2 separate regions of the Homo sapiens genome follow, and region 1 is reported to be linked to region 2. Evidence: microRNA targets listed by miRTarBase, many of them from high-throughput screens and not tested one by one. Region 2 holds a microRNA gene; the other region holds the end of a gene's coding sequence.
Evidence for each region. The annotated mature microRNA hsa-miR-3124-3p reads ACUUUCCUCACUCCCGUGAAGU and lies in region 2 at 2,829-2,850, opposite strand. An mRNA with a match to its seed (bases 2 to 7 or 8) in the 3' UTR can be bound and repressed. Matches are read on the target gene's strand: a 7mer-m8 pairs with bases 2 to 8, a 7mer-A1 pairs with bases 2 to 7 and ends in A, and an 8mer does both.

Region 1: the mRNA of SYNGR1 is a reported target of hsa-miR-3124-3p. Seed matches in the 3' UTR shown: 7mer-A1 at 1,418-1,424 and 7mer-A1 at 2,873-2,879.

What each region holds. Positions count from the first base shown.
Region 1 is chr22:39,380,894-39,385,275 of GRCh38, forward strand. SYNGR1 (synaptogyrin 1) reads left to right here. Exons shown (of 4, transcript NM_004711.5): 4 at 803-4,382. The coding sequence ends at 1,021. Among named protein-coding and RNA genes, the nearest start is that of TAB1, 17 kb to the right of the region's middle. RefSeq lists a silencer at 3,891-4,185.
Region 2 is chr1:248,824,886-248,829,267 of GRCh38, reverse strand. It overlaps MIR3124 (microRNA 3124), which reads right to left and starts at 2,891; the gene lies at 2,825-2,891. It overlaps SH3BP5L (SH3 binding domain protein 5 like), which reads left to right and starts at 3,353. Exons shown (of 7, transcript NM_030645.3): 1 at 3,353-3,433; 2 at 3,902-4,382. The coding sequence starts at 4,333. RefSeq lists enhancers at 2,662-2,761, 2,832-2,881, 2,457-3,007, 2,992-3,251, 3,008-3,559 and 1 more.

The DNA.
Region 1 (4,382 bases), not on the chromosome of region 2:
TGCAAGCATGAGTTGTCGCGCCTGGCCTCTCCTGCTTTCAAGAAGAAGATCAGATTGTTATTGTGCCTGCTGTTTTTCAAGTGCCTTTAACTCAACATAGTCAATATGCCAGAGGTGCATATTTTAGCCCAGGCTGGTCTTGATCTCCTGGCCTCAAGCAATCCTTCCACCTTGGCCTATCAAAGTTGTGGGATTACAGGCATGAGCCGCGGTGCATGGCCCCCAGGCATCTTTCATTCCTACAGACTTGGCTCATGGTCTTTGTGGTCCCTTTTGGCAATTAGAGCTCCAGCCATCACATCTGTGTTCCAGGCATCAGGTCAGAGGGTGGGACAGAGAACATGAGGGTACCCCATTGGCCAAAACGTAGTCACATGGCCATGCCTAGCTGCAAGAGAGACAAAAGAATGACTCTTAGGAGATGCTAACAGTCCTTTGTCCCGCTGAGAAGCTTTTTTTAAGAAGGCTGTTGTGAGCCTTTGAGCCATCTTAACACTCCATAATGGAGATCTAGAACTTTTGGTAGCCCAGACTGACCTCTGGGATTGGGAGACAGGGGCAGGTGATTTCTGGGGTACTTTCTGGCTGGATGATATGGTTCTGGGCATTTCCGGGGGTGGCTGCGAGAACAGCCTTCCTTCTCCACAGCCAAGCTTGGTCTCATGTTTGGTGCTTTGAGGATCTTTAACCCTCTCCTGCCTGTGTCCTGTGAACTAACCACCACTAACCCAGTGCTCTTGTCTGTCTCTCCCCTAACCACCCCCTCCCGCCTGTCCTTGTCCTCGCCGGCCTTTGTCCCCAGGCGGGCCAGGCTGTGCTGGCCTTCCAGCGGTACCAGATTGGCGCCGACTCGGCCCTCTTCTCCCAGGACTACATGGACCCCAGCCAGGACTCCAGCATGCCTTACGCGCCCTACGTGGAGCCCACTGGGCCGGATCCCGCCGGTATGGGCGGCACCTACCAGCAGCCGGCCAACACCTTCGACACCGAGCCCCAGGGCTACCAGTCGCAGGGCTACTGAGCCACAGTGACCGCCTGCCCCCGCCCCTCCCCATCTGTCCCCTCTCTCCACACCCAGCCCCTGCTCCTGCCCAGGCTGCCCTGCCCAGCGCCTCATCAGCCTCTGCCTTGTCCCACTGAGGTCCAGGGTAGCTCGGGGCAGGGGTGGGGCAGTCCAGTGTTGGGGACTGTCTACGTATGTGCAAGTATATCCCAGGGCATGTGCCCCGCAGGGGCCTAGAGGGTGGGGGCCAGGGGTATTTGCATTCATACATTGTGTCATCAAGCATTCCTTGAGCGCCTACTGGGCATCCGGCCTGTGCTGGGCATGGGTGGTGACATTGGCAGAAATGGCCACTGGAAAGGGGAGCGATGAGCTGTGGAGGAAGCCCTGGTGGTACCAGAGGCCAGAATGGTGGGAAAGACAGATCCAGATAATGCTGGGAAGTGTGGCTACACCGTGGCTTGGTCATAGGGTGAGTGTAAACACCCACAGGACACTGGGGGCTGTCACCCTGCTCTGGCAGTCCTGCTAAGAGTGTCAGGGCCGTCTCCATTTTATGGTTGAGGAAACTGAGGTCTAGAGAGGTCAAGATTACTTGCCCAGAATCACTCAGGCAGCTAGTGATAGAGGTGGGGCCAAGCCCAGGCTGCCCGACTGCAGACCACGTGCTCTTCCCTGGCCACCCACCTCCTACCATCCCCACGCTTGGGGCTTCCCTGCTCAGTGTTACTGTCATTCTGGGAGGCCTTGGGGCCCTCAGCCCCTTGAGACACCCTGATTCTGCTGCATGCCAAGGGCCTGTTCTGCCCCAGCTGTTCCTCCTCCCCTGGGGACAGCCCCACCTCCGGGTCCCTCCACCCACATCCCCCTGGTCCTACCCCTGGCCCTTGGCCTCCTCCAAGAGGGCTCACCCCGGGTGCTGCTCTGTGCTCTGCGTGTCCCACAGACGCTTGTTCCAGGGGGCTCCAGCAAACCCCTTCGTGGTCTCTCAAAGGACTGATCACTGTCCTTGCCTCTAGGAGGGGTCACTAAGCCCTTACCTAGGGCTGGGTGGACAACAAGGCACAGATGAGGGTGTGACTGGCCCGAGGTCACGGTGAGTGAGTGGCAAAGCTGGCCCTGACGCCTGGGTTTCTTGGCCCCAGCTGCCCAGCAGGTGCCTCGATTCCCTGCCCTTGTGACCTCCCAGGAAACAGAACTGATCTGGGACACTATGTCACCTCTCCTCTCATCTGGGGTCAGTCAGGGTTCGGGGGCTGCAGCAGCCAAGCGCATGAGAGGTGTTTCCTTGGCCTTCCAGAAGGCCCACTGTGGAGCCAGCCTCCCTATGGGAGGCAGAGCGGCAAGGACAGGGCTTTGGAATCAGCCAGGTCGGCTCCTGGGCTGTGGCCGTGGAGAGACACTGCCCCCAGGATGACACAGGCAAGAGCCCCTGAGGCATGGGAGGCCCAGGGAAGACCATGGGCTGTAGGGGAGAGTGTGGCAGGTGACCCAAAGGCCCAAAGAGGGCCGTGGGGCCTGAGGAGGTCATAATCTCTTCTGAGTGGGGGCAGGTCGATTCTTGCACAAGGTGGGCTCTTCACTGAGCCATAAGGGACAGGGAGGTATGGGAGAGCGCTGGGGGCCCATCCCCCTGTCCACCCAGTGTCCACTGGCCTGTCCTTCAGGGAGCAGAGCAGAGCAGGTGGTGGACGGGCCCAGTGCTGGGTGTTTTCACCACCATCCCCCCATCCCCCATCTAAGAATCCTAAGAGGCAGGCGATCCCTCACCTGCTTACTCACTCAGCAGTTACCCGGCCCCTGTGCTGGAGATACCAAGGGCATGGGTGGTCCCTGCTTCGATGGCCCCAAAGCTGGGCCAGAGTTAAGGGAAAGAGGAGGAAGTCCTAAGCAGAGAAGTAGCACCATTATCCCCATTTAACAGAAGGGAAACTGAGGCTCGGCAAGCATAGGCGAGTTGGCAGTGGAACACGGATCTAAACTCAGGTGTGTCCAAGTCCTCCCAAAGGACAGCAGTGATGGAGAGGACCCCAGCCAGCTGTGTGACAGCTGGTTGTTGCTGACTTCATTTTCCAATCCGGAGAAGGGGCTCTGTCCACAGTCCCCCGCCGCCAGGTGGCCCACATGGGACCAGCATGGGGGCAGGTTATCTGTTGGCCTGAAGAGTGAAACCTGTACCAGGCCAAAGGTGAGGGCGTGAGTGAGGGCAGGAGTGTTTATGGCAGAGTGAAGTTCTGTGCCCACCACAAGAGGCTGTGAGATGTTCTGACCCTCACCCACTGTCCACCAAAAGCCTCTCCTGCTGATGGGCACTAGGAGACCTCAGGGTACTGCCCATCTGTTTCTCCTCGGGTGCCAGCCAGCTGCTGGTGATCCTCAGCCGGAGGGCAGGGTACCAGGTAAGCTTAACTCCATCTTGGGTGTTTGTGACAGGCCCTGCCTGCCACCCTAGGCAGGGAAAGCTGTCAAGACTCCTGCCAGGAATGGGGGGTGCTGAGTCATCTCACGAAGAATCCCTCACTCTTCCCGGGTTCAGCCCAGAAGCCCTTCCAGGCATGATCTTCCCCATCAGGCTGGGCTCTGGCAGGGACCTGCCCAGGATGGAGATGAGAGAGGGTGAGAGATGGAGGGCGAGATTTGGATGGGACCCAGGGCTCCTGACTCTGCCCTGGAAGGTTCATGGGGAAACTCGCTCCTTCTGTTGGCAGAGGACAGCCCCTGGGGAACCCCAGGCCCAACTCTGTCCGGTATCCCTTTTCCTCCCAGCTGCCCTCCCCTACTTCTCCCTTGCTCCCAAAGCTTTCCTTGGAGAAGGGCCCTCCTGCAGCTGGACCCTGCAGGGTGGCTCCCTCCTCCCCATCAAGCACAAGAGAGGGCCCAGGAAAAAAGGTTTCACATAAGTGTAGAGTCGCAAGGACGCTTAGAGTCGGCAGAGTCTGGGGTAGGGAGACAGCGACTTGTCCAAGGTCAAGCACAGAGGGAGAGGTTCAGGAGTCAGGTCTTCTGCCTTCTGAGTTGGCTCATCCTGGGCAGTCACAGACTGTCCTGCCTGCACGGCTCCTATCCACCTGGGGGTGTCGCAGTTGAGGGGCTAATTCCCAGGGGACTGACGTTAGTTCCCTACTCCATCCTTCCCTGGTGATTCTTGATCTTCAAAGCCTCGGGGATCCCAGGTTTCCCCATGTAACTGAGACACCCTGCCTGTTAGCCCTGGGAGACCCCTAACCTTGGCCCAAGACCCCTTTGATTCTCTAAGGAGCACGAAAGGGGGAATGCCCCTCCCAGGAGTTTATGGGAGAAGGGACTGGGCCGGCTGCCTCCCAGCGATGCACTTGACCTGACACTCCCCATGTCCTGGTGCGCACAGCCCTTGTCGGTG
Region 2 (4,382 bases):
AAAAATAAAATAAAATGAGCACCATAGACTATCACCTACATGGGAAGTGAGATAGTGTCCTTTTTCTCATCATTGCCTGAAATTCTGGCACGTAATAGGCACTCCGTAAAGACATATTGCATAAAGGAATGAATCAACAAGCCAGAGAAGAGGAAACCCAGTACCAGGGTGACTCAGAAGCTAAATGATAAGAAAAAAGAGAGAAATAACCCAGTGTCAGATGTCAGTGATGTGGCAATATTGAGAGCATGGATGACCTTATCTTTGTAATTCCTATGAATTGGCAGCATCCGGAGCCAGACTGTAGGGGTGAATGGGAAGGGAGGAAGTGGAGAAAAGACAAATGATAGTGGAGACTGAGAGGCTGTTTGTTTTGTATTGAAGATGTGAAAGTTCAGTATGTATTCTGGAGAAATTATATAGAAAAGGCAGGTTCTAAAAACGTGCTGTCCAGGAAAGGAGAAACTAGCTACACAGAGCTATTTAAATTAAAATAAAAAATACAACTTCTTAATCACAGTAGCTCCATTTCAAGTTCTAAATGGCCACATGTGTCTACAGACTACCATACTGTGCAGAGCTGATTAACATTTCCTTCTTTGCAGAAAGGTCTTTCAGACAGTGCTGCTGTAGACAAAAGTTTTAATTCATCATGTTTGTGCTGGCTTCAATAAACAAGTTCAGGTTAAATCAATGCACAGCATCGCCCAATCTCTTCCTACCCAAAACATTATCCAAACCCAGCAGAAAAACTATTGTGGGATTATATCACAATCTATACATGATAGATTCACATGTGGTCTCAGTGGGTGAGAGTTAACCTTGGAAGAGGCCAGTGGAGACTTTAAAGGAGCTGCTAAATCTCAGGATGTGATCTAGGGGTCTGGCCATTATATGTATTCATAATGTTTTCCCACCAAAGATCTGTGACACGTAGCAGCAGTTTGTGATTGCTAAGCATTACACAGAGAAAAGGAGCTATGGGATGGGGTATAAGAATGACAGGTATTGGAGCAGTGCTGAATAAGAAAGGTTAGATAATTCAGGCTAGGGTAGACAGAACATCCTGGGTAAAATGAGGTTATTACAGTGAAATTCTAGTTCTACAAAAGTAAAGTGACTGGTAGACAACAAATAAATCATGTTTATCACCTTATATTTAATTTTTATGGTTTTTGTATGGCACCTTAATAATAAAAAGGACTGTGGTAGAAGACTGAGGCATTATTATCCATCAAAGCTGTCCACTTAGACAATGTTACTCAAGGTCCTGCTGACTTATTGAAATTAGAAAAATCACTTTTGTAATTTTAAAAACAAAACCTCCAATTTAATGGAAAAATCTGTTTTCAATCACCTCTTTTAAAGGAATATATTTTGCTCTGCTCAATTTAAAAAAATCGTTATTCATGGGATGAAGGGATAGAAGAAATGGACTGAGAACTGTAGAACTCTTGGCACATGACTCCATCCAAACCTCTGAGTTACTAAGAGACAAACTTTAGCATGCCTTCTAGCAGTGTCAGATCATGTCCCTAGGAGAACCCCAGCTCCCCCATGAAAATGCCTGCCTGAGAAAGCTCAATGCTACCAGGAGAATTTACTATTTGTTCTAGCCAACACCTGATGATAGGCTCCTGACCTCCCTTTCTCAGGGCGTTTATTAAGGGCTTACCATTATGAATCCTTCCTTCTTCTCTTTAAGGTGTTTATGCGTCTGCTACAACTCAAGAGGTCCTTCTAAAGGACCTGAGAGCCATTCCTTTGAAATTGATCGTCAAGAAGGGCAGAGCCTCTACCTCCCAATCTCAGTGCAAGAATAGCAAGCTAGGCTGGGCGTGGTGGCTCACGCCTCTAATCCTAGCACTTTGGGATGCCCAGGCGGGTGGATCACCTGAGGTCAGGAGTTCGAGACCAGCCTGGCCAACGTGGCGAAACCCCGTCTCTACTAAAAATAGAAAAATTAGCCAGATGTGTTGGCATGCACCTGTAATCCCAGCTACTCGGGAGGCTGAGGCAGGAGAATCTCTTGTACTCGGGGGTGGGGGTGGGGCGGAGGTTGCAGTGAGCCAAGATCGCGCCATTGCACTCCAGCCTGGGCAACAAGAGTTAAACTCCGTCTCAAAATAAATAAATACATAAAAAAGCACTCTAACTTCTATAGCTGCTAGCTAGCAGACACATCTGGCCGAATCGCATCTATGCCAATCAAATCTGTAATTTTTCACTTCTCCAACACTATTGAGCCCTGATCACCTTCCTTCCTTCATTCTCCCTTTGAAATGCCCAGTCACTTCTGTACAAATCGGAACAGAGGTCAGTTCTTTTCCTTTCTGTAAGTAGTTACTGAAAAAAGTCTTTTTCACTGCTTCAATGTCTAGCTGGGTTGTCTTTGACAGGATCCAAAAAGGAGGGGAATTCAGCCCATTTGCCTTTTCCATCTGCAGGGCAAAGTTTTGAGTTGACTCTGAGGAAGTTACGCCTTTTGTAAAAACAAAACATCCAACCCTGAATGAAGCCCTTCCCCTTAGGCCTAGGCCCTCCCCTCACCAAGCGACACCTAGAGGTGACAAGCAGGCGCTCGCTCAGGGACCTAGGTAACGATACACAATGCCATGTAACAAACTCCTGCTCATCGAGGGCATCTGACCCTGGGTGCACGAGTGAATTAACTGAGTTAATGTTGACTAAGTTCCTGGTTAGTATTCACGGAGCAATTGGTGACCCCACCAAAACGTCGTTCAAGGTGCAAGGTCCAGAGGCCTCGAGGAGTGGGATTTACACATCGGAGCCGTCCGCTCAGACGCCGTTAGTGGAGGGTTCCGCCGACTTCACGGGAGTGAGGAAAGTCACTTTTGGAAATCGACTTTGCCTTCGCCCGCGAAGCCCGCCAGCGTCCGGACTCGAGTTGCCCCCGGAGCCACTGCCGGAAGTTTACCAGCTCACTTTCGGCGTCGCGCCCGCCTCCGTGGAGCAGGCCGGAAGTGGCTTTCCGGCAGCCGCCGCCGCAGCTCCGTAAAGCAAGATGGCACTACTCACTCTGAGGCTATTATCTCCGTTTTATATCTAGTATTCCTCTTCTCACCAGTTACTCTCGATTTCCGTCCCGCGCCCTAATTTTCTTCAGCACCACATTCTCATGTTTTTCTTTCATTCAGCCTTGGTGGAGTATGGTCTGGAGGCAACCTACGGCTAGCCTGAGCAACGTGGGGCACCATTTTGTACGGAAACTGAAGGCAGGGCGGGGGAGTGTGAGGCCTCCCGAGGAGGCCCGGCTTGAGAGAGAGCGTGGGAGGGAGAGCGTTGTTCACCGATGATGTATTTCCGCTTCTGGTCTGCCTGGTCGTTTTTGGTTGGATCGGCTTGTTGCGGGGAGGGAGGGGGGGAGATTGTTTGCAGCATAGAAGCTCCGCGGACGGGAAGGTAAACTGAGGTAAGGCTGTGCGGGGGGCTTTTGCGCATGGCTGGGTAGAATGGACGGGAGTAGGGTCCTTGGGATTGCGGAAGAGTGTGGAATTGGAGACGGGAGGCTTAGATGTCTCGGGTTGGACAGAGAAGGTGGGGTGGGGCTCGGGGTTACAAGGTGAATCGCAAAGCCGGGCTGGGGTGGAGTGGGACGAGCGGGAGACCACAGGAGATGGAGGAGAGCCTAGGGGTGCAGAGGAAAGTCTCGAAGGCGCTGGTTGAGGAGGGCCTGGGTCGAGAGGAGCTGGGACGGGGGAAGAGTAGAATCTAAAGTCCTTGAGGGCTAAGGAGAGAAGTTGAGGTAGGGACTGGTCGGAATACATGGGTGGGGGCGTGGTGAGAGTGTAGTTTTTGGGAGGCTGTAGAGTTGGAAGGGGCTGGTGGCTGCGGTTTTGATGCTGACATGACCATATACTTGGCCTTTGTTTCTCTGCAGCTCCCCAGAGACGCTCATCCTACAGCCTCAGCTCGGGCCCAGCCTTCTCTCTCCAGCTGCCACCACAGCCTGGAGGCGCCTGCCTCCACCCTCCCGAATGGTGCTCCTCCTAGCAGGCCTCGGTCCAGGATCCAAGCCCCCTTTGCCCCCTGCCTTGGAGCTGTTGCTCCGGGTTTGTCACAGTGGACTCCCTGTGGCGGGAAGGGAAGAACTTTTGCACAGACAAGGCTTCAGCTCTAGGAACCCCACTGACAACTTGAATCTCAACCTCTAACCTAGTGTGAGGTTCTTCCTGTGCCCACCTTTTCTGCCTTTTGAGAAGAGAAACTCTTCTCCTGGCCATCTAGAGCCCAGGAAGCCCCAAGCTGGGGCCCTGGTCCCAGCATGTCAGTCCTCTCTTGTGCATAGGGCTCTGCCCTCCCCCTGTCAGCATGGCTGAGCTCAGACAGGTTCCAGGAGGGCGGGAGACCCCACAGGGGGA